5 separate regions of the Homo sapiens genome follow, and all the other regions are linked to region 1. The links come from fine-mapping of genetic effects on gene expression. A gene starts in region 1. Each other region holds a variant in brackets. All regions are shown on one strand. Distances are between the middles of the regions. Region 1 holds the start of CPNE8 (copine 8). Region 2 overlaps CPNE8 (copine 8). Region 3 overlaps CPNE8 (copine 8). Region 4 overlaps CPNE8 (copine 8). Region 5 has its middle 130 kb from the start of ALG10B.

The links. PIP is the estimated chance that this variant, and not a neighbour inherited with it, causes the effect. A credible set is the group of variants that fine-mapping cannot tell apart.
Region 2: its variant is the best candidate, but not a certain one, in a credible set for the expression of CPNE8 in tibial nerve (GTEx, PIP 0.66).
Region 3: its variant is the best candidate, but not a certain one, in a credible set for the expression of CPNE8 in whole blood (TOPMed, PIP 0.77).
Region 4: its variant is the best candidate, but not a certain one, in a credible set for the expression of CPNE8 in whole blood (INTERVAL, PIP 0.53).
Region 5: its variant is the best candidate, but not a certain one, in a credible set for the expression of CPNE8 in whole blood (TOPMed, PIP 0.53).

Annotation. Positions count from the first base shown.
Region 1 is chr12:38,902,391-38,907,500 of GRCh38, reverse strand. CPNE8 (copine 8) reads left to right here and starts at 1,910. Exons shown (of 20, transcript NM_153634.3): 1 at 1,910-2,064. The coding sequence starts at 1,967. CPNE8-AS1 (CPNE8 antisense RNA 1) reads right to left here and starts at 1,789. Exons shown (of 2, transcript XR_007063275.1): 1 at 504-1,789. RefSeq lists an enhancer at 366-625 and a silencer at 1,756-1,925.
Region 2 is chr12:38,692,690-38,697,799 of GRCh38, reverse strand. It overlaps CPNE8 (copine 8), which reads left to right. Exons shown (of 20, transcript NM_153634.3): 15 at 3,962-4,143. Among named protein-coding and RNA genes, the nearest start is that of CPNE8, 210 kb to the left of the region's middle. The variant T/A (reference allele first, on the strand shown) is at 2,765.
Region 3 is chr12:38,648,772-38,653,881 of GRCh38, reverse strand. It overlaps CPNE8 (copine 8), which reads left to right. Exons shown (of 20, transcript NM_153634.3): 20 at 1-1,679. Among named protein-coding and RNA genes, the nearest start is that of CPNE8, 250 kb to the left of the region's middle. The variant A/G (reference allele first, on the strand shown) is at 3,030.
Region 4 is chr12:38,825,380-38,830,489 of GRCh38, reverse strand. It overlaps CPNE8 (copine 8), which reads left to right. Exons shown (of 20, transcript NM_153634.3): 6 at 1,035-1,111. Among named protein-coding and RNA genes, the nearest start is that of CPNE8, 78 kb to the left of the region's middle. The variant T/C (reference allele first, on the strand shown) is at 2,675.
Region 5 is chr12:38,444,665-38,449,774 of GRCh38, reverse strand. No RefSeq gene overlaps it. Among named protein-coding and RNA genes, the nearest start is that of ALG10B, 130 kb to the right of the region's middle. The variant C/T (reference allele first, on the strand shown) is at 2,032.

The DNA of each region.
Region 1 (5,110 bases):
GATGAAAGGAGGTACTGATTACGACGTAAGAAAACTTTTGGGTGATGGAATGATTCATTATTTTGATTTTGGTGATGGCTTCACAGGGAGATACATGAGTCAACATTTATCGAATGATGGATGCACTTTAAGTGCAGTTCATTATATATGTTATACCTCACTGAAGTGGAAACAAATTGGATGTAAGTATCCCACATGTTGACTACTAAAGTTCTCAAGTTTCATCTCTTCAGTAGGCTTCTGTAAAGTAAAATTCTGGTGAGCTTAAAAAAAAACCTAGATCTCTATGCCAAATTAACTTTGAGCAGCATAATAGAAATGCCTGGGGTTTTAGGGCATTTCCAAATCGCAGTAAACTACAGTTTAATTTGTAATAGGACAAGAGGAAGGAAAAAAAAAGAAGAAAAAGCGGTGGGTGGGGAAATCAGGAAAGGAAAGCAAGAAGAAACAGGGGAAGTACACTCGGCAGGGGAATCGGCAAGACTGCACCTACACACTCTCACCCGCCTCTATAGATTCTCTAGGCAGGAGGCTGCAAGTGGATTAAAATGTTACAACGCAAGGCAAGTCCTCCACCGCAAAAACTGCTCCTCCCAGACTTAGCCCAACCAGCTGGAAACTCCGTGCTTGGAGCGTTAAATCGGACGGACACCCGCCCCCTCTCCACCCTCTGCCTTCCAGCTGCGCCGCATCCTGTTCTCCGTCGCCGCCTGGTGGCGAGCTCCCGGGACCCGCAGGCGCTCGGGTGAGGCAGGAGGGAAGGCGCGGGGAACAAAGGTCCCTGCAGTGGAGGGGCGCCTCGTCTACCTCCGGATGCTTTTGCCACGACTCCGTCTTGGCACCAGTCTTGCTGCCCTGGAATGCAGTTTCCCAAACGCAGCGCTCACTCTGACTCCTCTCTGCTTTTATCCGTCAGGTCTCAGTTCTTGCGGGTGGGAGTCGGCTGAAGGAGCTGCGTTATATGGTTGTGACATCACCCTCCCCGGCCCCCATTTTCAGGTCAGAACTTTCATGCCTTTGGAAACGAGGGACCCAGAAGAGCCCTTACTGTAGGAGGAATGTCGCCGTTAGACCTCTAAGCTCCGAAGAACCAAGGGGAGACAGAATCCAGATTGCTTCCTTAAATCCCAAGTAGTATTGTTTTTTCCACCTTAGAGTCCGCCCCCCCGCCCCCACTTGTCCCATATATTGATCGGCCACTTTGCCACCGTGTTCCAAGGTTGGAGAGCGTCACAATGCCCCACCGTCCCCAACTCTCAAGTGGCCGACAGTGGGCAGTCCAGAAGCTGGGACCAGACTCATCTGCCCGAGGGCACAGTAGGAGGGACGGAGGGATCTCCCAAGAGCTCCGAGGGCGAGGTGAGAACCAATTGTGGGGAGGGGGACCTTATAACGGGGCAGTTAGGAACGGGCAGAGGTGCCCCCACCTCCAGCTTTCAACTCAGGCGAGGAAACTTCGAGACCTTCCCGTCCACACCTGATTGACAGAAGGAAGCTGTCGCGGCCCAGGAGGCGAGTGTGGGTGTGCAGAGGTGGAGACAAAACCTAAAAGCACGCAGAGCCGGCGAGGGCTTGCGGTCCTGGACGGTAGGGGTCTGCGTCTGGTGCCACCTTCTCCATCAGGCTGCTTGCTGGGTCCACCAAGCCTGACCCCTCCAGCCAGGAGGGGATCACGGAGTGTGTCCCCCGCCCGGGCTGCTGCCTGCCGGAAGGGGGCTGGGAAACCGGGATCCCCGCGCGCCACTTGCCTGGCAGCGTCAGTTTCACCCAGGACTGGCTAGCGGTTCCCTCGTGGCTCTGCGCGGAGGTCCGCCTCCTCCCTTCCCTCCCCCATCCCGCGCGCTGCCTCCGCCTCCTTCTTCTGCCTCCACCCTCAACCCCCATCCCCGCCTGACGGGAGCTAGCCCTCAGTCCGCCCGAGCTGTGGTTGTGGGCGCCGGACAAGTCCAAGGCGCCTCCTCCCAATATGGACAGCCGCTACAACAGCACTGCGGGCATCGGGGACTTGAACCAGCTGAGCGCTGCCATCCCGGCCACGCGGGTGGAGGTGTCCGTGTCCTGCAGGTGAGGACGCAGCCCTTCCCCTCTCTCCTGCCCTCTCATCTGTGGGGTTGGTAGCACTTGGAGAGCGCTCGGGGTACCACGAGGCTTTGCGCAGGCAAGAAGTTGCGCCATGAGTGGGAAATATCTCAGTAGTGGGGCTGGAGTTACCCCGGGTCAGGTGACACAGGGGAGCGGGAATTAGAAGCGGTGGGCTCCGGGACTGAGACTTTGTATTTTCTTTCTGGGAAACGCTGTAAAAGTTGGCTGGGCTGTGACTCAGCTGTGGGAACACCGGCCGCCGCCCACTTTACAAGCCGGTTTTCCGCCCCAAACCCGGGCTGGATGGTTGGGTGATGACCGGAATCGAAGGGGACAGCACTGCCAAAAGCTCTTGTGACCGCTGCACGCTTAGGCCCGGGACTTCCTCTGCTAGGCGTGTGCAAACCTGCTGTTGCTAGGGTTGGCTCCAACCCCGGCAGCTTCCTCCCCACCCACTTCCTGGAGCCTTCCAGCTTGCTTCTCCCCGACCCTTCCGGGCTTTTTGCCTTTTGCCTGATAGGTAGAGATTTCGGCCCTCCTTGCAGACGAATCTATGCCTTACCTAAGATCTGGGAAGTCACGACTTTTGTTTTGATTTGTTTTCGGGCCCACATCTGAGTGCTTGTAAAAACTGACTCTCGGCCGGGCGCAGTGGCTCAGTACAGTTTATACGCCTGTATTCCCAGCACTTTGGGAGGCCAAGGCGGGTGGATCACGAGGTCAGGAGTTCGAGACCAGCCTGGCCAATATGGTGAAACTCCGTCTCTACTAAAAATGCAAAAATTAGCCGGACGTGGTGGCACGCGCCTGTAGTCCCAGCTACTCGGGAGACTGAGACAGGAGAATCGCTTGAACCCGGGATGTGGATGTTGCAATGAGCTGAGATCTTGCCATTGCACTCCAGCCTGGGCGACAGCGCAAGACTCCATCTCAAAAAAAAAAAAAAAACAAAAAAAAACTGACTTTCAACCCTGTCCAGAGACTGTAAATTGCAAACTCGTTGTCCTGACCTTTCGGTTAGTTGCCCTGTAAATAAAGCAGCATCACCGCTATATCATAGATGATTTTGAGAAGGAGATGAGCGATGGTGCTAAATTGGTACTGGCCACTAATTTGCGAATTAATATTGACCCTGGAGCCCACTCCCTTGTTTGCATAATTGGGTCTGTCTCACTGGAAAACTGGCTCCTCATTTATCCATTTTTGCCCTAAGATTGTTTTTATGCCCTCACATCCTCCCTTTCCTTTCCTTAGCAAACTTGCCTTGAAGATATCTAACAAATTTGGGTGATCTTGATGTAAATAAGTTTAAAATTCCATCAATCTTGACTTTGCATTTTCACAAACTGAGCCTAAAGCCAAAGGAATTCTTTTCTGGGGGTGAAAATTCGAGCACCAGCAACCGTAGTAGAAGTATTATTTGAGGGTAGGGGACAGCCTTTATCTAGCCCTGAAACTATATCACCTGATTGTTTGCCGCCTCTTAAGACTGATCTGGGACTATGGAAATAATCATGCTGATAATGATAGCTATCATTAAGCTCTTGCCTCATTGCTGTCACTGCTTTAAGTGCTGCCTGAGATTTTTCTGTCAATGGAACAGGTGAAGCTGTTTGGAAAACTCTTTAGAGGATTCCTAGGCCTTTTTCTTTTCTCTGAAGCTTGCTTTCGATGTTAGAGGGAAGTTACTGGTATATACAGATAATGGATAGCCGGAAGTCCTACAATAACAGCATTACTAGAGTTCTTATCCTCTGCTCAACAGTCTGCAAAGTCTGAATGGCATGTGGCCTATACTTGGAATGAATATAAAAGAATATTGTCAATCAAGTCTGAATTTTTCCATGAGCTTTTTAAGGGAAATTATACCTAAACTGGTCATTCTGCCAGTAGGGCCCATGTTTAATGCAGCCCCTTTTTTGATGCATGTTTTCTGTGAGTGTGCTGGGCATACTGAAGTCAATTGGCTTAAGGCAATTTGTTTCAGTTTGCTGCCTCAGAACCTGCAAATCCCTTGTTCCAGCTTTTTTTCATAACATTGCTTTGACATTTTGTTTTTAATTTTTAAGATTTCTAACAGGAAAAAAAAATCCTGAAAGAGAACCTGAATACTTAGTGTCAAGCATCTCTGCCAGGGGCACTAGTGCTTAGTCTATTGTTTGAGTTGCTTCTGACTCAGCTTACTATTTACGATAAGTTTGAGGTAAAAAGCATCTTTTGGGCAAAGAGAAACATAATTAAATACCCAAGTTAGTGCCTTTGGAATAGGTTTGGGAATAGTTCCTGAAAAGGTGGGTTAAATTTATTTTTAATACATTAAAATTCAAAGATAAAAATATTTGAGTATTGTTGGATCTTGTAACCATAGGAGGTGGTTTAGTTTGGGCTTTGGCATCAGAGACCTAAGTACAAATTCTGGCTTTGTGACTTGTTCTTGCTACCTTGGAGTAAGTTCTTATTCAGTCTGTCTAAGCATTCTCATCTCCAAAAATAAGAATAGTTATGGTATTTACCTTATATAGAGTGTTATCAAGGTGATGTGTGAAAGCGCTTACACAATGCATGAAACAAAAACATGTTTTCAAAAATGTTAGCTATTATTATAATACTGGAAATAACATTTGTTGAATAAATGTGTTATATATGATTCAGGTATGGAATTCTGTAAAAGTCCTTCTCTTTTGAACTTCAATAAGTTGGTTAAAGAACACAAGGATAGAACCAGCATTGGGATACCTGTTCCCGCTTTCTCTATCTTCTTTGATGTGCATCAAGAACATGTTTTGTAGAAAGGTTGTGGGGATTTCACTTAGCAACAAAGCACAGTTGAAGGCCTCTGAGCCTTGCTATGGGCAGGCAGAGTAAGGAATTCCCTTGCCTTACTATACCAGAGACTTCTGAGGATTTGCCCACACTTCAAAAGCAGCTCAGATTTGAATAGGTTCTTTCTTTCTCATTCTTTATCTTTCTTTCTCTCTCTCCTTTCTTTCTTTCTTTCTTTTTCTTTCTTTCTTTCTTTCTTTCTCTT
Region 2 (5,110 bases), 210 kb after region 1:
GTACCATGCTCCTTTTAGCAACCACCTCTCACGTGAACTAACAGAGTGAGAACTTCCCTCATTACTAGGAAGATGGTACCAAGCCATTCATGGGGGATCCTACCCCATGACCTAAACACCTCCCACCAGTCCCCATCACCAACATTGAGATTTGGAGGGGACAAACATCCAAACTATATCAGTGGGAATGTAAAATTGTACAGCCACTTTAGAAAAACACTTTGCTAAGTTCCTCACATTGTTAAATATAGAGTTACCATATGACCTAGCAATTTCATTCCTAGATATATACTCAAGAGACTTAAAAACATATGTCAGCAAAAAAACTTATACGTGAATATATATAACAGCATAATATCCCAAATGTGGAAGCAACCCAAATGTCTAACAAGTGATAAATGATAAAATCCATACAATGGAATACTATTCTGCAATAAACAAAAATAAAGCACTAATACATGCAGGCTATAAGATAGATGGTTGTTGAGATCTATAAGCTAAGTGAAAGCAGCTAGTTACAAAAGATCACATGTTATGTGATTCTGTTTTTATGAACTGTCAAGAAGAGACAAATCAATGGAGACAAAAAGACGATTAGTGATTATTTAGGGCTAGGGTGGTAACTAATGGGTACGGTTTCTTTTTGAAGTGATAAAAATGTTCTGAAATTAACTATAGTGATGATTGCACATAACTATGAATATAGTAACAATCATTGAATTGTTCTTTGTTTTATTTTGTTTTGTTTTTTGAGATGGGGGATCTCACTCTGTCGCCCAGGCTGGAGTACAGGGGTGCAATCTCAGCTCACTGCAACCTCCACTTCCAGGGCTCAAGTGATTCTCCAGCCTCAGCCTCCCAAGTAGCTGGGACTACAGGCACATGCCACCAACTCCTGGCTAATTTGTGTGTTTTTTGTAAAGACGAGATTTTGCCATGTTGCCTAGGCTGGTCTCGAATTCCTGAGCTCAAAGCGATCCACCCACCTTGGCCTCCCAAAGTGCTGGGATTACAGGCATGAGCCACCATGCCCAGCTGAATTATATATTTTAAATGGTTAATACGTAACTTATGCCATTATGTCTCAATAAACTCTTAAAAATATTCTATTGAACTGTGAGTTTCTTACAAAGGTATAGTACATCTCTAAAGCAAAATCAGATATAATTTTGATAATATTGGGTATAACAAAAGTATACATATTGTCAGTTTGTTGAAAGGGTTAAGTGAGCTATGATATAAAATTGTCAATACATGTTAAGTTCCGTGTTATAATTATTATGGCTATTAGTTGGGCCCCAATGTTATTAACCTACTACAAATTCATTGTTTAAAAGCATCTTTGCAGATACAGAGGAAATACAAACACTGTCCCAGACTCAAGGAGTTGACTCAATACTTTAAATTGCCATTTTTTTTTTTTTTTTAGTATAGAACACAAGATCCATAACAGTATAAGAGAAAAGACAATAAGGGCTGGAATAAACAAAAAGGGTTGTCTAGTATGTGTGAGACATAAGTTGGAGGAGGAGAAGGTGAATTTCAGGACAGGGTGGCAACTTGAGAGGTAGAGGTGGGAGGGAAAGTATCATTAGCAGTAATGTGAAGAGACTGGTGTAGAGGAAGATGCTGGAAAGAGATAGGTAACATCTTTGTATGGGTACAAAGGGCCCAGCTATGCATGTTAGGTTAAAATGTTTAAATGTTCTGGGGTACTAATTATATTTTTTTATTTACAGTTTTCATAGTGAAGTAAAAGTATTTGCCATATTGTCACCATTGGATTAAAACTCTTCTATATTTGTGAGTTTGAGAGTTGGGGGAAGTATTCGTTTGTTTGTTTGTTTGTGTTTGTTTTTGAGACAGGGTCTTGCTCTGTTGCTCAGGCTGGAGTACAGTGACACTATCAGGGGCTCACTGCACCCTTGACCTCCCGGACTCAAGTGATCTCCCACATCTCAGCTTCCTGAGCAGCTGAGACTACAGGCACATGCCACCACACCCAGCTGATTTTTGTATTTTTTGTAGAGGCAGGGTTTCACCATGTTGGCCAGGCTGGTTGCAAACTCCTGGGCTCAAGCTGTCCACCTGCCTCAGCCTCCCAGAGTGCTAGGATTTCAGGCATGAGAGTTGTGTTAAATAACCATTTAGTCTAGTAATGGTATTTTTAAATCTCTGATTCCACTGGGCTTTGGATCAAGTGGCAAAGTCCCTACTTTAGAAGCAAGTGTCAAAGAAAAATCACACTGGACACATTAAAAAGGCAAGAAAGGCTTTATTTAAGACCATTGCAAAGGGGTCAAGACTGTTACAACAGAGGACAAAAATTGAACTCAACTACTCCAAAACAAAAGGTTGGAGTGTTTGTGCTTGCTGAGGTGAGCTACTGGAAAAGTCCTAGAGGACATTAGCCCGGAAGTTGGTTTGTGTGCTTAGGCCATCTCTGTTTGCTAATTGGTTCTTATTGAAGTTAGGCTTCTATCTTCTCACGGAGACTGGAAGATAGGGCTGCTGTTTTTCTTGATGTTTATATTTCAAAGGGATGCCTTCCATGTCCTTGAGAAAGATACTCCTTGGTTGTAGAAGATTTACATCTCAAAGGTGCAGAGGAAGAATTTACAATTGCAAGTTTTCTAAAGTGAGAGCTGTAAGAAAAGAGCGGTCAGGGTCTTATAGTCAGGAAGGAACTTTCTACAAGTTTAGTCAAGTTGAGGGGAACATTAGGCCATTTTGATAAGAAGATACTTTTTTAGTGATTTTGTTA[T/A]GTGGAGCCAGCCCTTGAACGCTGGTAACTCTTGGAAATATAAAATAAAAAAAAGTTCAATTAATTGTTTTTAGGACAAAAATATTATGTGTATAATTACCTGTCAAATAACCCAAGGGGAGATCTTTATTTTGTTTCTCTCTGGATCTCAAGTGCTTTTTGTTACTTTTGTTCCTTATCAGAAAAACTATGTCCTGAGGCTTTTCTTCTTCAGACAATGCTTTAACGTAAAATTGAGGTTCATATGCTGCTACAAGTCTCATTTAACTTTCCATTTTTATTTAAGGAACCAAATGGACTTTCAGGCTGCCTTTATGCTGGTAATTAGGGCAACTTGTTGTGAATTTCAATGTGTTTGAGTGGTAGCACATATTAATACATTACACTTTCTCTCAATTTCATCACTATTCAAGTGCAACATCCTACACAGTATAAGCATTTTGAAATTCAGAACCTTGTGGATGACCCAGACTATAATAACTGCAGCAGTTCAGCTTACAATTTTATGGTGCTTTATTATTTTTAATCACTTTTAAACGTGTAATCTCATTTTGTCCTCCGGGTAAACACAGTGGTAGGATTTATTTTACAGAGGCTGCCATACAAATGGCAAGACTTGACTCTGGCCTCTGGCTCCTAGCTTAATGTCTCATTCGAAAGTTGTGAAGAATTTTTTAGATCTAGATATTTAATCAGCCTGCACTTGAAAATCACTATACTTCCCTTTTTTAAGTGCTAAATTGGGATACTTCTCAAATATTCAGTTATTTATAGGAAGCCTTCATAATTATTGAAGTCCATTAAATCTATTGGGTCATCTTGCCATAGGCATAAGGATTCAAGCTAAAGGCACATGATTTTGTTTAAAAATAAAGATTACAATAAAATAAGATTAACAAAAGTACTTTTATACTTCCAGAACAAAAACTCAAAAATACCCTGTGGCATTGAAAATAAGAATCATTTCTGAAAACTTCTGCGTATGCTTTGGCATATCTTAGAACTTTCTATATGTCTAATATAATATAACAAATATTTCTGTGTTAATATCCATCCAAAAAGAAATGATTTGACACACTGTATATAGGCAGAAAAACATAATTTTGAATATTTCATTCTGAAATAGACACCAAGAAAAATTTTGTTAAATTTATTTACCCTAATTGCTTATGTTTGAAATATGTGTTCTGTCATCAGGCAACCCTGCTCAGCCCACTTCCCTCCACTACATGAATCCTTACCAACTGAATGCCTATGGTATGGCACTAAAAGCAGTGGGAGAAATTGTTCAAGATTATGACAGTGATAAAATGTTTCCAGCTCTAGGATTTGGTGCAAAACTGCCTCCAGATGGAAGGATATCTCACGAATTTGCTTTGGTAAGAATTTGTCAAAAGGATTTGATGTTTTGAAAAATTAATGTTAGACCTTTTAATATTGCTTTGGTACTTATTCTTTAGTCAGTCAAGTAGCAAGCTTTACTGACTGTAGCTTAATTTTGGTAAGTAATTGACTTTGGAGTGTGAACTTAATGGGAAAAAAGGACAGCTAAATAGCTTAGCCATAAATCTACCTGAAGTGCACCCACCTGATTTACAAATGGGGGTCTATTTTGGTTATCTATTGCTTGCTAACAAACCTTCCTAAAACTTAGAGATATCAAACAATATCATTCTATTATGCTTATGATTTGTGCCTCAGGAATTCAAGCAGAATATAATGGGAGACAGCGCATTTTTGCTTTGCAGTACCTGGAGTCTCAGCTTAGGTGACTTGAATGGCTAGAGATGCCTGGAATTGGTGACTGGGGCCATATTTTTCAACTTAGTTCTGGCTGTCTTTTGAATTCCTTAGATCTTCTCCATGTTATGTCTTCTGGGGCTGATATGTCTCCTAACATAACTTCTTTGCTCATGTTCATTCATGTCTTGGGCCTGAGCTTGGATAGCTGAAAAGCTGGGGTTGCCTGGACAACTCTCCCTTGTTTTACATATGGCCTGTCTCTGTAGTTATGGAGGGCTTCAGAACTGTATAGTGGTCTCACTGTAGCAAGATTTCTTATGTAGCAGCCAGCTTTCCCAGGGTGAGTAATCTAAAAGTCTAGGACAGAAACTCCAAGGATGTTTATATCATATTCTTAGAAGTCCCAAAATGTTATTTCTGCAACATCCTATTGGTCAGGCAAGTTACTAAGACCATCCCAGGTTCAAGGTAGAGGAATTAACCTTCACTTCTCAATGGGAAGAGTATCAAAGAATGTGTGGCTCTCTGTAATGTACCATCATTTTTAAAACCTAAGAAAAGAAATAATTGTGTTAAACTAAATGAGGTTTATTAATTTTCCTT
Region 3 (5,110 bases), 250 kb after region 1:
CTGTGCTCTGAAATGCTAATGTCAACTACAAATCAAAAGTGCTGAGTTAATGCTTTGTGCCTGGTGCTCTGTAATGAACCAGGCAATGAGATAGTTTTCTCAGTTTGGTTTCAGCAGTTAATGTGCTTTCTTGGATCCAAATTTAAATATCTTCCTAAACCAAAACTGTAAATATGGTTGTTGCATGAGCAACAGAAAAAATTGTTTAAATGCTTGAAGCAAAGTATGGATGTCTTCTCTAAATCTTTCTTTCTTTTTTTTTTTAACAGAAACAGCTAATTTCCAATGTATTGTTGGGAAAAAGCACAAACTGTGTTTTTAACTCAAATATTGTCTTCGACTGCTATGTGTATAGGAAAGCAGTCTCTGTATCAATGTTTACATGTTACTACTTTTTAAATTTCAATACTTTTATAACTGTTCTTAAAAATAAGAGTTTTAAATACTGAATCCTTTGTCTTCTAAATTGCAATAGCTATAATCACAAGAGCAATATCTCTTTGAATGACTGTCTGGACAAACACAATTGCAAATAAGGGAAGGGAAAAATGCTTTTCTATTTTTCAGTAACTGGATTGTCTTAAGAAACTACATCTGCTTAATAAACAATTTCTCAGCAATGTTTGCTGGGTATGGGAGTTTAAGCCCGGCAGATGTGTCTCCTGGTTGAACATGCATTTTTCATGGAGTTTGGGTTCTAAATTTAGACTGCAGTTGGTTTGTATTTTGTAACACTAAGTAGAAATTATAAAAAGTCAAACATTGTGATCTATAAATGCACAGAAAATACTTTGTAAAAAGTAGCATCCTTATATAATAATGCTATTTAGAAAGACTGAAACCAAGACTATTTAACTGTGAACTATGTAGCAGATGTTTTAAACTTTTTATTCCATTATATCTTGTCTAGATATTTTAATTCAAAGGGATACTGGCTCTCTTGATCGGAATTTCTTGTTATCACCATTCCACGTTGCCACACAAGGTGCACAGGCTGGAAGTCTTTTGTGAAATTCCCAGTTAAATATATACAACTATGTGACTTAGTGCACAACACATTTGTGAAATAACCTACTCCTATATACTGACCTGCCTGTCCACGAATAATTGTAAAGGGTTTTTGCATGTACAGTTTTTACAAGAATTACAGTTTTGTGAAGTTGTGTCTAAATTAAAGCATTTCTTTAGAACAAATGGCCTTAAATTCTCACGGAATTCCTGGAAATGATTGTGAATTGCCTTCAAATAATAGAAAAGTGTATTTATTTGTGTGTGTGTGTGTGTCAAAAATGTAACTGCTTTATAATATTTTTTCCTTACCTATATATTCTATTTAATACTTGGTTTATTTCTACTGTACATTGTTTTCTTTGTCCCAAGTTGACCTAGGGTGACTTTTATAAGCATGAAACTATTTTACTGGAAAGAAAAATATATACATCCACATATCTAACAGTATCAATGTTATATAACTATGTAATAATTGTTGATTTTTAATTATGTATTAAAATCTTTAAATCATAACTATTTGCTTTGTACGTTTCATGTATGAATGACAATAGTTTGATGATTTCCTTTACTGATCTTAAATATTTATGCCACTACAGTGTATTACCTACAGATTTTTAAATTTAGCTTTATTTATCAACCCAAAAAACAAATAAATAAGATCAATATTCTTTTCTTCTTGTCAAACATCAGTTATTTTTTTGAACTGTCCAGAGAAAACAAAAGTTGTACAATTCCTTGTATAAATAATAGATTGCTCAAACCTAGTGGGAGTAAATGGCCAGGAATGAAGCAATTTCTCTTTACAAATGTTATCATTTATATGGCTGAGAATGATAATCAGAAACTTATGTGAAGTTAATGCTACATGTAAGATTAGAAAATACGTAAATCTTGTGTATTCATTGCAAAAATGTAGTAAACCAAGATTGGAGGGATTAAGTGATGTATCCAAGACTATATAACTAGAGAAGAGCTCATTACCATCTTGGAAATATTTGTTATAACTTACATTTTGTTAGTTGCTATTAGGTGCTATGCAATAGGAAATCCCAGAGACATGCTTCATAAAGGAAAACACATAGTAATAGTTGTACATACAAACTGGTTATCAGGGATATTTACACTTACGGTAATGAGCAACAAGAAAGGTATATATTGAGAAGGGGTGATAGATTCAAGTCATTAAACCTGCTGCAGAAGTCAGTCTTCAAGTGGTGCCCTCAAGAACCCCAGAGACTTTGGGCACTGTCCTATCTTTGTAATCTCATTTCCTTCCTCTCCAATGAAAGCCTCTAATTATCATTTGAACTCCAGGATGAACTCTTGGTGTTATTTTCAAGTATCTCCATCATCTGAATTTGCCCAGTTATGTAATACCAATTCCTATTGCTTCTCAAATTAATATTAAAACTAACCAGGCCTGCCTCATTCCTTTTCCGCAACCACTCCGAGTTTACCTGGAGTCTGTCTATAGTGTTCATACTCTGTTCTCTCATCAAGCCCTCTTCTCTGGTCTTTACCTGAGGATATCCTTTGCACTTTCCAACTCAAGCCCCAGCTCCTCTGAACCTTGTTCTTTAAAACTTCAATGCTAACAATAATCAGTACTTTCTATGAGCTCATCTTTGTATTGCATTTCAGCATATTAATTGCCTCAGATTATTTCTAAACTATTTTATTTTATCTGGGGCATCTTGTCTCTCCATCCTTATGGAATAGTATTTAATGGCACCTGGTAAATTTTTAAAGCTCCCCAGTTTATTGTAATGTGTAGCTAGAGTGTGAAATTGCTGCAACTAAAGACTATTGGATGACTCAATTACTACTTTTTAAATTATCTCTTCCAACATGCAATATCGAGAGAAAAGAAGAGGTGGATATGACTCTGGTGGTGGTGAATGTGGGAAGAGAGTGGATTTGGGATTAGGGTTGGAGCATAGGTTATTTTGTTTTTCAGGCTCAGGGAAGATAATAGATGGACTCATGCACTTTTTTTTTTTATTACTGTGTCATCATCA[A/G]CTTAGGAAATAAAGACCTCTCACAAAGATGAGGTGGATGTGGTTATTTCTTAGAAGACCTGAAATGCCAAAGATTTTACTGAAGAGCATGCCTTTTTCTTTCAGCTTGCGTGAATTTTATTTAATGACTTTGTGTTACATATAGCTGTAATTGAGACAAAGTGGCCAGATTCTTCATAAAAACTCAGAGTAAAGAATAATTTTTGTGATTAGCACAAATCAGATACATTTACTAATAAATAAGCTGCTGAGTTGAGGATCAAATAGATTGAGTGCATGTGGAGTGTTACCTATGAAGATGGAAAAGATGGAAATCTACTTGCAAAAAGTCACACTTGTGCAGAGCTTTCTCATCAGTGTGTTACAGATGATTTACAGATTTATGCCTTGCAGATGGGCTACAGGTGTGCACCTTGGGGTGGTGTATAGTGCCTGGGGTAATTGGAGCTCCCAGCCTCCATCATGTTCATTGGCTAACCTCAGGATATTTTAACAAACATTCCCATTTTTAATGTGTGTCTTGAAATGTAGGGAAGCACTGCATTACAGAGATTATTTCCTAAATAACCTCTGCTTACAGCCAGTTCCACCTTCATTTTTTCTACTTATATGCCCTACGATATTTATACTGAAATTAAATTGAAAGAGTATTCACATACAATTCCATGGCAAATGTATTGTAGCAAATAAACTTCAGAGGAATAAGACATGAATGTCCTTGCATTTTTCACCACCTTCTTCATAAACATCCTACCACTCACGAAAATAGGTGTATCATCAGATGACCCAGAGGACATCAAAGCGTAGAGTCAAAGGGATTCAACCTTGTTATTTCCTTAGAATAAACACTGTTCTAGAAGACATCCTCTTCTCCCAACCATGACTGTTCCCCTCACCCCACTTTCCTACCAAGTATCACTCTATTTGCTCTGTTGATACCTGAGCGTCATTTAACAATAGGCAGTCCTTCATTTTACAAACTATTGGGATGTGCTGAGATCAGATACACGGATCTTAAGAATAAGCACATTTTAAAAACATATTGACATAATTCTTTGCACCAAAATTTTTTCTAAAAAAACCTTTCTTCATCATATCTTAGTTACTTAGGTATGACTTTGATAAGGGAAGACTTGGTATATCATGAACATGCACAAGTTTTAAACGGCTTCCTTAGGAAATGTGAAAGGGGAAATAGAGAAGCAACAAACAAGTATTTTCTCATGAGTTATTGCCTAAGCTATGTTTATAACTCTTAAGAGATGATTATCCTAAGCAATGCTCACCTCCTAGATTTCAGGTTTTTAACCTGGAATGAGGAGATACCAAGTAGAAGTACTTTCCCAACACAGAGTAGCCCATAACAAAATTATTTTTCTTTAAATTGATATGACCCCCACCCCCAGCTACCATTTTACTGTATAGAATCTTACTTCTTTGTCTCTAAGCAAAATATGCTAACATAATACACAGAAGTCTCCAAATATAATGTCTATACTAAGATTATCTCAAAGACATAATAGTTCTAATTCATATCACAAACTTTTGAGCAGTATTTGAGGCAATATATTCACACCTCATCAGTCAGGGTTATTGCTTACCTCATACTTCATCAGCACACCCCCAACCCCAACAGCTAACCTTGCTCTTATTTTCTGGCTTTAGAGATGCTCTGAATGTCAAACTCTGAGAGGAAAATGACCACTGAACTCTGACTATGGAAAGAGCAAAAGCAAACTGATCGAAAGATTTGCTCATTTAGTTTTAAAGCAATAGTGACCATGACCTCATGATTTTCTCACCACAAAGTTATTCACCAATTTAATTTCCATGAAACAGGCCTGCTGGGCATTCCTAATGTATTTAGATAAGCTGATTTCATACAGATGGGATTTGCTATCAGTCAAATGGGTGGATGTCATTGACCTCACAAATTAGGGGGAAGGATAAAGGAAGGAATATGCTTAGGGTTGGCTTAAAAATAGCTACTCTTTCAAAGATCTTTCTCTCCTTATGAAATAAATGAATTAAAAGAAGTTATAAGACTGGTTCAGTAATTTTGACAGAGAACAACCAGTTTG
Region 4 (5,110 bases), 77 kb after region 1:
CCTACATATCCAGATGGTGTTGGTGCCCTTATTTTATAGATATATGAGTTTGCACTGTACTTATGGTATTTAAATTCTTATGTGGCATATCAGTCTGGAATCAGAACATCAGAGTTTGTCTTGGCTCTGCTATTTATGGAAAATCAACCTTCTAGAGTTTTAGTTTCTATTTTTTAAATTAAATTAAATTAAATTAAAAATTTTTGTGAGTACATAGTAGGTGTATGCATTTATGAGGTACATGAGATGTTTTGATATAGGCATGCAATGTGAAATAAGCACTTAGTTTCTTTATATGTGAAATGCAGTGTTAATATCAGACCTCTCATTTACAGGGTTATTCTGAGTCTTGAAAATAAGAATCATACGGTTGTATGTTAATGAACGTTATAGTATATTTTACTTAACCCATTTTTAGGCACTTACAATATGCTAGTATTAACTCATGCAATAACTAATTGAACCCTCAGAACAATTTTGTGAGGAGGTACTAATACATTATAGAGAAGAGCAAACTGCAGAGCTTAATTAATTGCCTACAATCACAGTTAGTAAGTGGTAGTACTAGAATAGACACCTGGCAGGTTGGCTGTGGACCCTAGTTGAGGCTACTGCATCACATGACCTTTCTCTAAGTGTTACTGGGATTAGCCACCTCTGCTGTGGGCTTTCTCATTTTGTCTCCTCAGCCAACAATTCCAGTAATTCAGAGGCATCCGAAGTTAAGCCAATTGTGCATTCAAAACCTCCAACTTTTGTCTATTTTGTATTGTAACTTAAAACATAAAAAGAAAACAAATGCAATGCCTGTGAACTCAGAATAACTGCTCTGTGATTAAAAACACAAAATGCTGTGCAAACATGTGAAAGTCACATGGTAAGATTAATGCATATTGAGCTTATTTTACTTATTGTTGGAAGTTAGAAATGTCAATATTTCAGCAATGAAAACAATGCAGATGTATGATGTACAAAACATATACTGTAAAGATAGTTTGGAAACTTATGAGCTTTAATCTTTTTATCTATTTCAGGACTTTCTGGGACAAGTGTTTTGTACATTGGGAGAGATCGTTGGTTCACAGGGAAGTCGCCTGGAAAAACCAATAGTGTAAGTATTTTTTAATTCAGACAATGAAATGCCAACTTTAACAGTTTCTATTTTGTCAGTTTGGAATTGGTGAATGCATGGTTGTGGAGCAAAAGTGGGTTTTAAAATCTTGTTTGAGTTTTTTCTTTTAACAAATAATTTTGACATATTTTTAAAGAATAATTTCTATGTCACCTGTCATATGCTATGCTAAAAAATTTTCACAAGATGAAATGAGCAAATTTAAATAAGGAAATGTGTTGTTTTTCTTTTGGTTGTACTATTAATTATCAGATTTCGTACTTCTTGAAAAAGAGATTTTACTCTTTTGGGTTAGTAAATATATGTAGTAAACTGCTGTTAATACCATGTATTTCATAAATGCACTTTTGGTTATTGAAATTTTCATAATAATTTTTACCATGGAAGTGGCTTGTAGAGAAAGCTGTAAGTAGGTAAATATTGGGAGAAGGTAATCACTAAGAATGGTCTATTCCATCTTCACCTTCAATTACTAGGATCATGTTTAGTTTTCATGTCAATTGCATGAGTTGATTCTGTTTCCTCCAGTTCCAAATAAGGCAGGGAGCAAATTTTAGAAATTTTTCATGGCTTTATTCTCCTTTCCTCCTTCTTCCCCTTCCCTAATCCTGATTATTTGGATTGACTTAACTGTTCATAAAATTCAGAAGATCTAGAAAGAATAGTACATTTGCAGAGTTAACCACAATCTCAAAAGCTTTAGGGAATTTTGAAGTCTTTATCTTCATCAACCTTTTAAGAATCTCAAACTCAAAAAATAAATATTCCAATACTCCATAAATCTGTTTATTTCTGACATAAATACTTGAAATGGCAAGGCATTATTCTCACATTTCTTATATAAAATTAAACTTTTTATTTAGTGTGTTCATTGCTATGCAAGAAATTATTAGGCTAATAAGAATTCTATAAATTCTAAGTTTTTGAAATTTAATTTGATTTCCTTAGAAAATTATTACCGAATGTCAGTTTGAAAACTTTCATATATCAGCTCCCATTTTAAATTCTTTTTGTGTGTAATTTATTTTCACATAATTATAGGACTTGGAAGCTTATTACAAAAATATATTTATGCTCACTTTAGTAAGTAGTAAGCAATCTGTGAGGCAGATGCAAATATTTTATTGAGTGCATATAATTCTAATTGCATCTCCTATTCTAGTGACTTATGCTCACAAGGATTCCTAAGACCACTAAATCTACCTTTTGTTTTTTGTCGTTAAAAAGAATCAATAATATATGCAATACCACCTTAAAGATGCCTTTAACATTCTTCAAGAGAAAACAAAAGCAATTAAAATACAGAATTTTCATTTCCAAGCAACAGAATAGAGATTTTTATGAATGGGTACACTTCTTATTCATTTATTTATTTGTTAGCTTTTATTTTAGGTTCAGAGGTACTTGTGCAGGTTTGTTAGGTAGATAAATTGCACATCACAGGGCTTTGGCATACAGATTATTTCATCACCCAGGTAATAAGCATAGTACCCCATAGGTAGTTTTTCGGTCCTCACTTTCCTCCCTTCCTCCACCCTCAAG[T/C]AGGCTCCAGTGTCTGCTGTTTCCTTCTTTGTGTCCATGACTACTCAATGTTTATCTCCCGCTTATAAGTGAGAACATGTGGTATTTGGTTTTCTGTTCCTGTGTCAATTTGCTTAGGATAATGGCCTCTAGTTCCATTACTGTTGCTACAAAGGTTAAAATTTCAGACTTTTTTATGTCTATATAATATTCCATGTTGTATATTTACCACATTTTATTTATCCAGTCCACCATTGGTGGGCATTTAGGTTGATTCCATGTCTTTGCTATTGTGAATAGTGCTGCAATGAACATAAACATGAATGTCTTTATGGTAGAACAATTTATATTCCTTTGGCTATGTACCCAATAATGGGATTGCTGGGTCAAATGGTAATTCTGTTTTAAGTTGTTTGAGAAATCACCAAATTGCTTTACACAATGGCTGAACTAATTTACATTTCCACCAGCAGCATATAAGTGTTCCCTTTTCTCTGCAGCCTCACCAGCATCTGTTATTTTTTGACTTTTTAGTAATAGCCACTCTGACTGTTCTAAGATGATATCTCATTATGGTTTTTATTTGCATTTCTCTAATGATTAGTGATGTTGAGCATTTCTTTCCTATGCACGTTGGCTATGTGGTATACTTTTTTTTTTTTTTTTTTTTGAGACGGAGTCTCCCTTTGTTGTCCAGGCGCAATCTCTGCTCACTGCAACCTCTGCCTCCCGGGTTCAAGTGATTCTTCTGCCTCAGCCTCCCGAGTAGCTGGGATTACAGGCGCACGTGTGGCACCCTGCTAATTTTTTTTTTTTTTTTTTTGTATTTTTAGTAGAGACGGGGTTTCAGCATGTTGGTCAGGCTGGTCTCGAACTCCTGACCTCGTGATCTGCCCGCCTCGGCCTCCCAAAGTTCTGGGATTACAGGCGTGAGCCACTGCACCCAGCCTATGTGGTATACATATTTTTAAATTAGTAATTTTATTGGAAATTTTTATCTGTTTTTTTAACATAAGGAAATCATAATTCTAATTTCAGAAAATGATTAAATTATTAAGTTATAAAAAATTTACCAGTGGAAAATCATATTTATATTAATCTTGGAATATATTAAAAATTTGATATTATTATAATGTGTTGATTGGGGTATGTGGTGAATAGAACATAGCATAAGATATGGTCCTTGTTCAGCTGATTCAACAATTCCCACTAGGTATGACCAGCAAAAATAAATTCTTGCTAAGAGGTGAAGATACCTAGGGTAGACTGGTAGAATATGCAGATGTTGGGAGAATTTGCTGGGGGTTGAGTCATGATCATTTTATGTAATCAGAAAGGATGAGATTTAGATTTTTCTTAGCTCTTGCTAAGGGCGGGGTATAACATACACATATTTCATATAGTGTAATGAGGGAAAGACTTCAAAACTTGTTCATCCAACATGGATCTACAGTAACCACATGCTGTGCTTCATCTATAGGATATTCTGAAATTTAGACAACTTTATTGAAGGTCCTCAGGTTCTATCTTTCTTACTGAAAAAGGAATAATTAATTTGATTTTCTAAGCTTATATCACTAAATTTTATTCAGCCCTTCATCTCCTTGGACAGTCTTGTCAGGCAAATAAACATTAAGAAAATAGTTTAAAGGTAAGATTATTGTTTGAGCAGTGGAAGATTTCTAAATTTTTCTAAGAAAACTTAGCTAGGCAAGTTTTAGTACTAAGTGGGTAAGAAAATGTAAAGCTTGAGTGTAGCAAAGAGATGGACTACAAAAGAAAAAAGCAAAGAAACAAAACCTTAGGAATTGCAGACTGGTTGCAATTACATTCATTAAACAGTAGTGAATTGGATTAGATACCTGAGATAATCCAATAGAGGAAAGAGATGAGAGGGTGAAATGAAATAGGAAAGATTAATTAAAAATGGGAGAGTAAAAGTGAATACGATTAGTTTGCTAGTGGAAAGATATTTTGGCTTTATTAATTAAGGCACCTAGTGACGTGCTATCACTGGATCAGATGTTCCAACGCAGGTGAACAATGGACTGGAAAAAACATTTTGTAGTCACCCTTCGTCTTACATAGAAAAGACTGGCTTTAATGAAAAACTCTAGCTGTGAGAGAGGCATATGTCTGGAGGAAGAACATGTGGATTGAAGAACAAGGTCTGTTGGCTAAGTTTTAAGTTCAGGTACTTTGAGAGAAGATACAGCTTCTATGCAAATAGCATTTTACTCCCTTACCTCAGTCTCAAATGAAAAACACAACCATTCATACTTTTTGTTTGAAAAAGCACAATTGGGTTGAGGAAGAGCAAAATGCTGTTTTCATGGAAGCTTTATCTGCGAATAATGCCAAGATAGCCCTTCAGAGCAGCTGGTCCACTCCATGGAGTCCTAAATTCCACATTCATCCTTGCTAACTCCTGCTCTTCCATGTACTTCACTTTTTTTA
Region 5 (5,110 bases), 460 kb after region 1:
CTCATCCAACTGCATTTAGACCTAGAGATTTTGCAGCATGTTTACAAATTTTGATAAAAAGTAAAATGCATTTGACACTGAAGACTTATATGGTGGTATTTATGGTATCTGTTACTGCTTATTTAGCCTTTCTCACGAAGATCTGTTAAAGGTTTATGACTGTAATGAAAGACAAATACTTTGCCTTTCATTCTGAGATGTTTACTAAGTAGTTCATCTTCTCGATTTTAAACCAGTTTTTAGTTCAGTGAGCAGATATTATGTCAGCTCATAAGTGCTTTAATGCCAGTTTCTTGAGAGAGAAGCATTACTGGCTCCCCCAGGAGTTTTTTGTTTGTTTATTTTAGACTTGGGAAAGTTTCACAAGTATACAGAGTCTCAGATCCAAAATAATACTCTTAGAGTCAGGACAAATAGAAAAGCTCTAAAATGGTCCCAGTCACTTGTTATTCTGCATTTAGACAGCCTAGATATTGTAACTGGACAGAATTAATTTTTATCTTAATTCCACATTTTACTAGCTTTGTTATCTTGTAGAAACTGCTTGGTTTCTCTGTAACTGGACAGACTCAAGTTTTTGGCTTAATTTCACATCTTCTTGCTTTGTTATCTTGCAGAAACTGCTTGGTCTCTCTGGGTTAGTTTCTCATTCTGAAAAAATTAATAGAATACGTACTTTTCATGTCTGTCTGTATGTGTGTGTAGATATAGCAACAGCTTCAAGAATTGTGAGCACTTCATACAAAATCTTGTTTAATACTCACGACACTCCTGTAGGTAACTACTATTGTTGTATCCTATTTTACAAAGAAAGAAGCCAAGTTCAGAGACAATAAGGAACTTGCCATAAATCAATGAGCAAATAATTATTGATATTGGGGTGTATTTATAGTGCCCTCACAATTTTCTTCTATTTTATGGTGCATATTTGGGCTTTGTAACTCCTAGGGCAAAGAAATTCAAATGACTTCTGCTTTCAACTTCTGTACATACAAAGATTGAGCCCATTGGATCTAAGTTCCAAGGGCCACAATATATCAAAGCTGAGAGTCCTTGGAGCCAAGCAAGAGAACTATATTTCCACCAAATGAAACTTTGTAGCAATATAGGGAGACATGTGGGAGTGAGAATTACTTATGTCAGGATACGTCAATTATGCAAATTGTACTTAAAAACAAAGGAAAAGACTAAGTGGGGTACCACAGACAGATGCAGTAATTGCCAAAAAAAAAAAAAAAAAAAAAAAAAAAAAACTTGCATTATCATTGTCTTTGGTCCTTCCCCATCTTGGCTGTTTCCATAAAATCATATTTCATCTTCAAAACAATCTTATGATCCAAACAAACTTATTCTACTTTTTAGATTATAAGACCTAGACTCAAAAGGTAACTTTCCCAAGGTCAGAGAATTTTCAATAATGCACTTAAAACTCAACTTTGATGACCTCTGTGGTTCTGGCCATGGGTTTATCTAAATACTCTTGAACTTAGCTTTACTTACTTACATATATTCTGAATGGTAGCACATTTAAGAATTTTACTGCCACTGTGGGAAGTGCTTTTATCTTTGGTTCTGAAAATTATTTCAAGGCGCTGATATAGAGGTAGAGGTGGCAACTAGAACAAGAAGAAAATAATGGAATTAATGAGATATGGTGTTATGATCTGAATGTTTATGTCCCTTCACAATTCATATATGAAACCTAACCTCCAAGATAATTGTCTTAAGTTGTGGAACCATTGAGAAGTGATTAGATCATGAGGCTTTACCTTTATGAATGAGATTAATGCCTTTATAAAAGTGCTTGAGGGCGTTTGTTTGCTCCTTCCACTGGGTGAGGACACAACAAAAAGGTACCACCTTTGAAGGACAGCAGCCCTCACTAGATACTGAATCTTCTGGCACCTTGATCTTGGACTTTCTAGCCTTCAGGACTGTAAACAATAGATTTCTATTGTTTATAAATTACCCAGTCTAAGGTATTTTGTTTTAGCAGCTGGAACAGTCTAGGACATAAGAATTTTCTCTAGG[C/T]CTTCATTCCATTAGGTATATACTGTATATACACCTATTGTGTATATATATACACACACATATATATGTATATATATACACACACATATGTATATATGTATATGTATATATTTATATATACACACACATATATGTATATATGTGTGTGTATTTATTTATATATACACACACATATATGTATATATGTGTATGTATATATTTATATATATAAATATATATAAAAATATATATAAATATATATATAAATATGTATATAAATATATATAAAAATATATATAAATATATATATAAATATGTATATAAATATATATAAATATATACATATATAAATATATATAAAAATATATACATATATATAAATATATATATATATTAGAATAGAAGTCAACTAGACCATTCAAAGTCCATGGAGGTCTATTTGCCTGTGGAAGGGTCCCAGAACATTTGTAATCCTTCTGATACAGGGAAAATTATATGTGTACTTAAATATCTGCAGTTGCTTTAGGGTGAGAAACCAAGCCTAAGACACATTTTTATTACATACCTAATGTGGGCTGTGAACTGTGTTTGTCCTAGGCTTATGGTGGTGACTTTTAAGAAGTACAAAGAGTCTGAAATTCTACTCTACTTTCAAGCTTACAAGTTAGCCTGCCACAGGTGCATGAATACTGGCATAATGCATGAAACTCTTTGGTCAGAAACAAAGGCCAGTTCATTATTCACAATAATAACATTAGCTGAGCTATAAGCATTTGTAGCAGCTCTCCAGGCCTAGATTTTCCCTGGGTGCTGTAAAGAGTGCTGGGTAGGTAGCAAATGTACACATAGTGGAATGTGTTACAGGCAAGGACCCCTGAGTTTAGGAAATTCTAATCTTTTATAAGGTGCAGTAAGCATGCCTGACCTTTGCATTATGTATACTACACTAAACAGCAAGAATGACTGCTTGAGATACACTATGTTGTTACATATCTTAGCAAACATGCTTGAAAGATAGGAGAAAAGGCAGTCGATGTTTCTGCTATCAACATGTGTAGATACCTGAGACACTCATGGACACTTGTTTCCCAATAATAGCAAAAGACTACTCATACAGTTCTCTGCCTTCATGGACATTTTTTTGTCTTGGTTTGTAAACAAATGCCAAGGTTAATATTATAGGCCCTCATATCCATGAGTTCTACATCCATGGATTCAACCAACGGCAAATTGAAAATTTTTGAAACAAAATTGCATCTGCACTGTATATGTGCAGACTTTTTTCCTTGTAATTATTCCAACAGTACAGTATAGCAACTATTTACATAGGTTTTACATTGTATTAGGTATTATAAGTAATCTTGAGATGATTAAAAATATACAAAGGACGTACCTACAAAGTATTTGATAGGTTTATGCAAATACTGTGCCATTTTCTGAAAGGAAATTCAGCATCCATTGATTTCTGATATCCACAGGAAGTCCTGGAACAAATCCCCAACAGACACTGAGGAACAATTGTAATTATAAATTGTGATAATAATTGAGAAGAAAAAAGAGCAGTATGCTATCAGAAATGCAGAAGGATGAGTTAGATTCAAGGAGCTTAGAAATGGCTTATCTGAGAAAGGGACTTTTAACCTGAGGTATGAAAAGAAGTTGGGCAGGTAGAATTGAGAAGAAAGCATTGTAAAACAGCATATTTGAAGGTCCAGATTCCCTAGAATTCAGAGATTGTTAGAACAGCCAGGACAGTAGGAATATTCAAGGGAGGAGATAAAGGAAGGGGATGTGATTGAATGGGTAGGCAGAAACAGATTATTATCTGTTTCAAAGAGCAATGAGAAAGCCACGGAATGCTTTAACTGGGAAGTCTAGTCGTCTGATTCACATTTTAAAAGATAGTTATACTATATGTGGGATGCAGAGGAGGAAAAATTAGTGGAAGAGAAAAATCAGATAGGAAGCTGCTGGATGATAGTGTTTGGCAATGATGACGGCAGTAAAGATGAAGATGAGTGATACTCAGGGCTGTCTTTTTTGTTTTAACCTTCTATTTCCTGGCTGTTAAAAAATTGAATATATTTTCACTTTTCCATATCCTTCCCAATTGTGCAGTTTACTACTGAATAGAAGTAGTAAACCATGAGGGAGGCTAAGCTACACTGAAATGTGGGATCTGCAATGGCATGATGATCAGAATATTATCGTACATCCAATTGTTAACAAATATTCCCAGGTTTAGGTCCAATTTGCATATATGTGTTGTTTCCTAGTTGCTGAAACTAAATATTTTTTATCTTTATACCTCATTTCCTGGAATAGTGTTTTGTTTAGTCACCTTAAATATTTGCAAAGTAAATTATTTAATTCATGAATCATGGATGAAAGCATAAAGGATCTGTGATCATCAGGATTTATTTTCTTGTTTTTATGATCACTCTAAGAAACAGAATGGATCTCCAACCCCAAATTTGGTTCAGATATCAAAATTGATGATACTACACTCATACCATGAGGGTAAGAAAAGATTTATTAGTCACACAATAAGGCTTTCTGGGCAGAGCAGGGCATGCCTCCCAAGCTGGTCCAAAAATGTCTTGAGAAAACAGGGAAAGGAGACTGGCATCGGGTTTTTATGAGCTGGGGGTGGGATTGAGGTGAGGGTTCATATGCATAGTTTGAACTTCCTGCCTGCGCAAAAGGAGGAAGCTGGGGGGCTTTGCCAGCTGTAGGGCTTCCCGGGAAGAGGATAGAATGAAACTTACACACTATCAGTAATCGAACATCAAAAAAATGGGATTGGACTCTCGATTATACTTATTTACTAGAATGAAACTTGAGAGACAAGTTTGTATATGATGTATATGTACTGGGGTATGGCAATGTTCACTACAAAGTATAATGTAGTCTTTTCTTGCCATTAAACTTCTGGTCAACAAAGAGGACATTGAGATCAAGTATCTCTCAATACTTCACAATAAGTAGCTATCTTGCAGAATAAAGTTGATCTTGCTAGCTAGATATTAGTTTGTTATTAACAAAATTTTGGTCATTATATTCCTATCACAAAATTATATTTGTATTTAGTAGGTGGCCA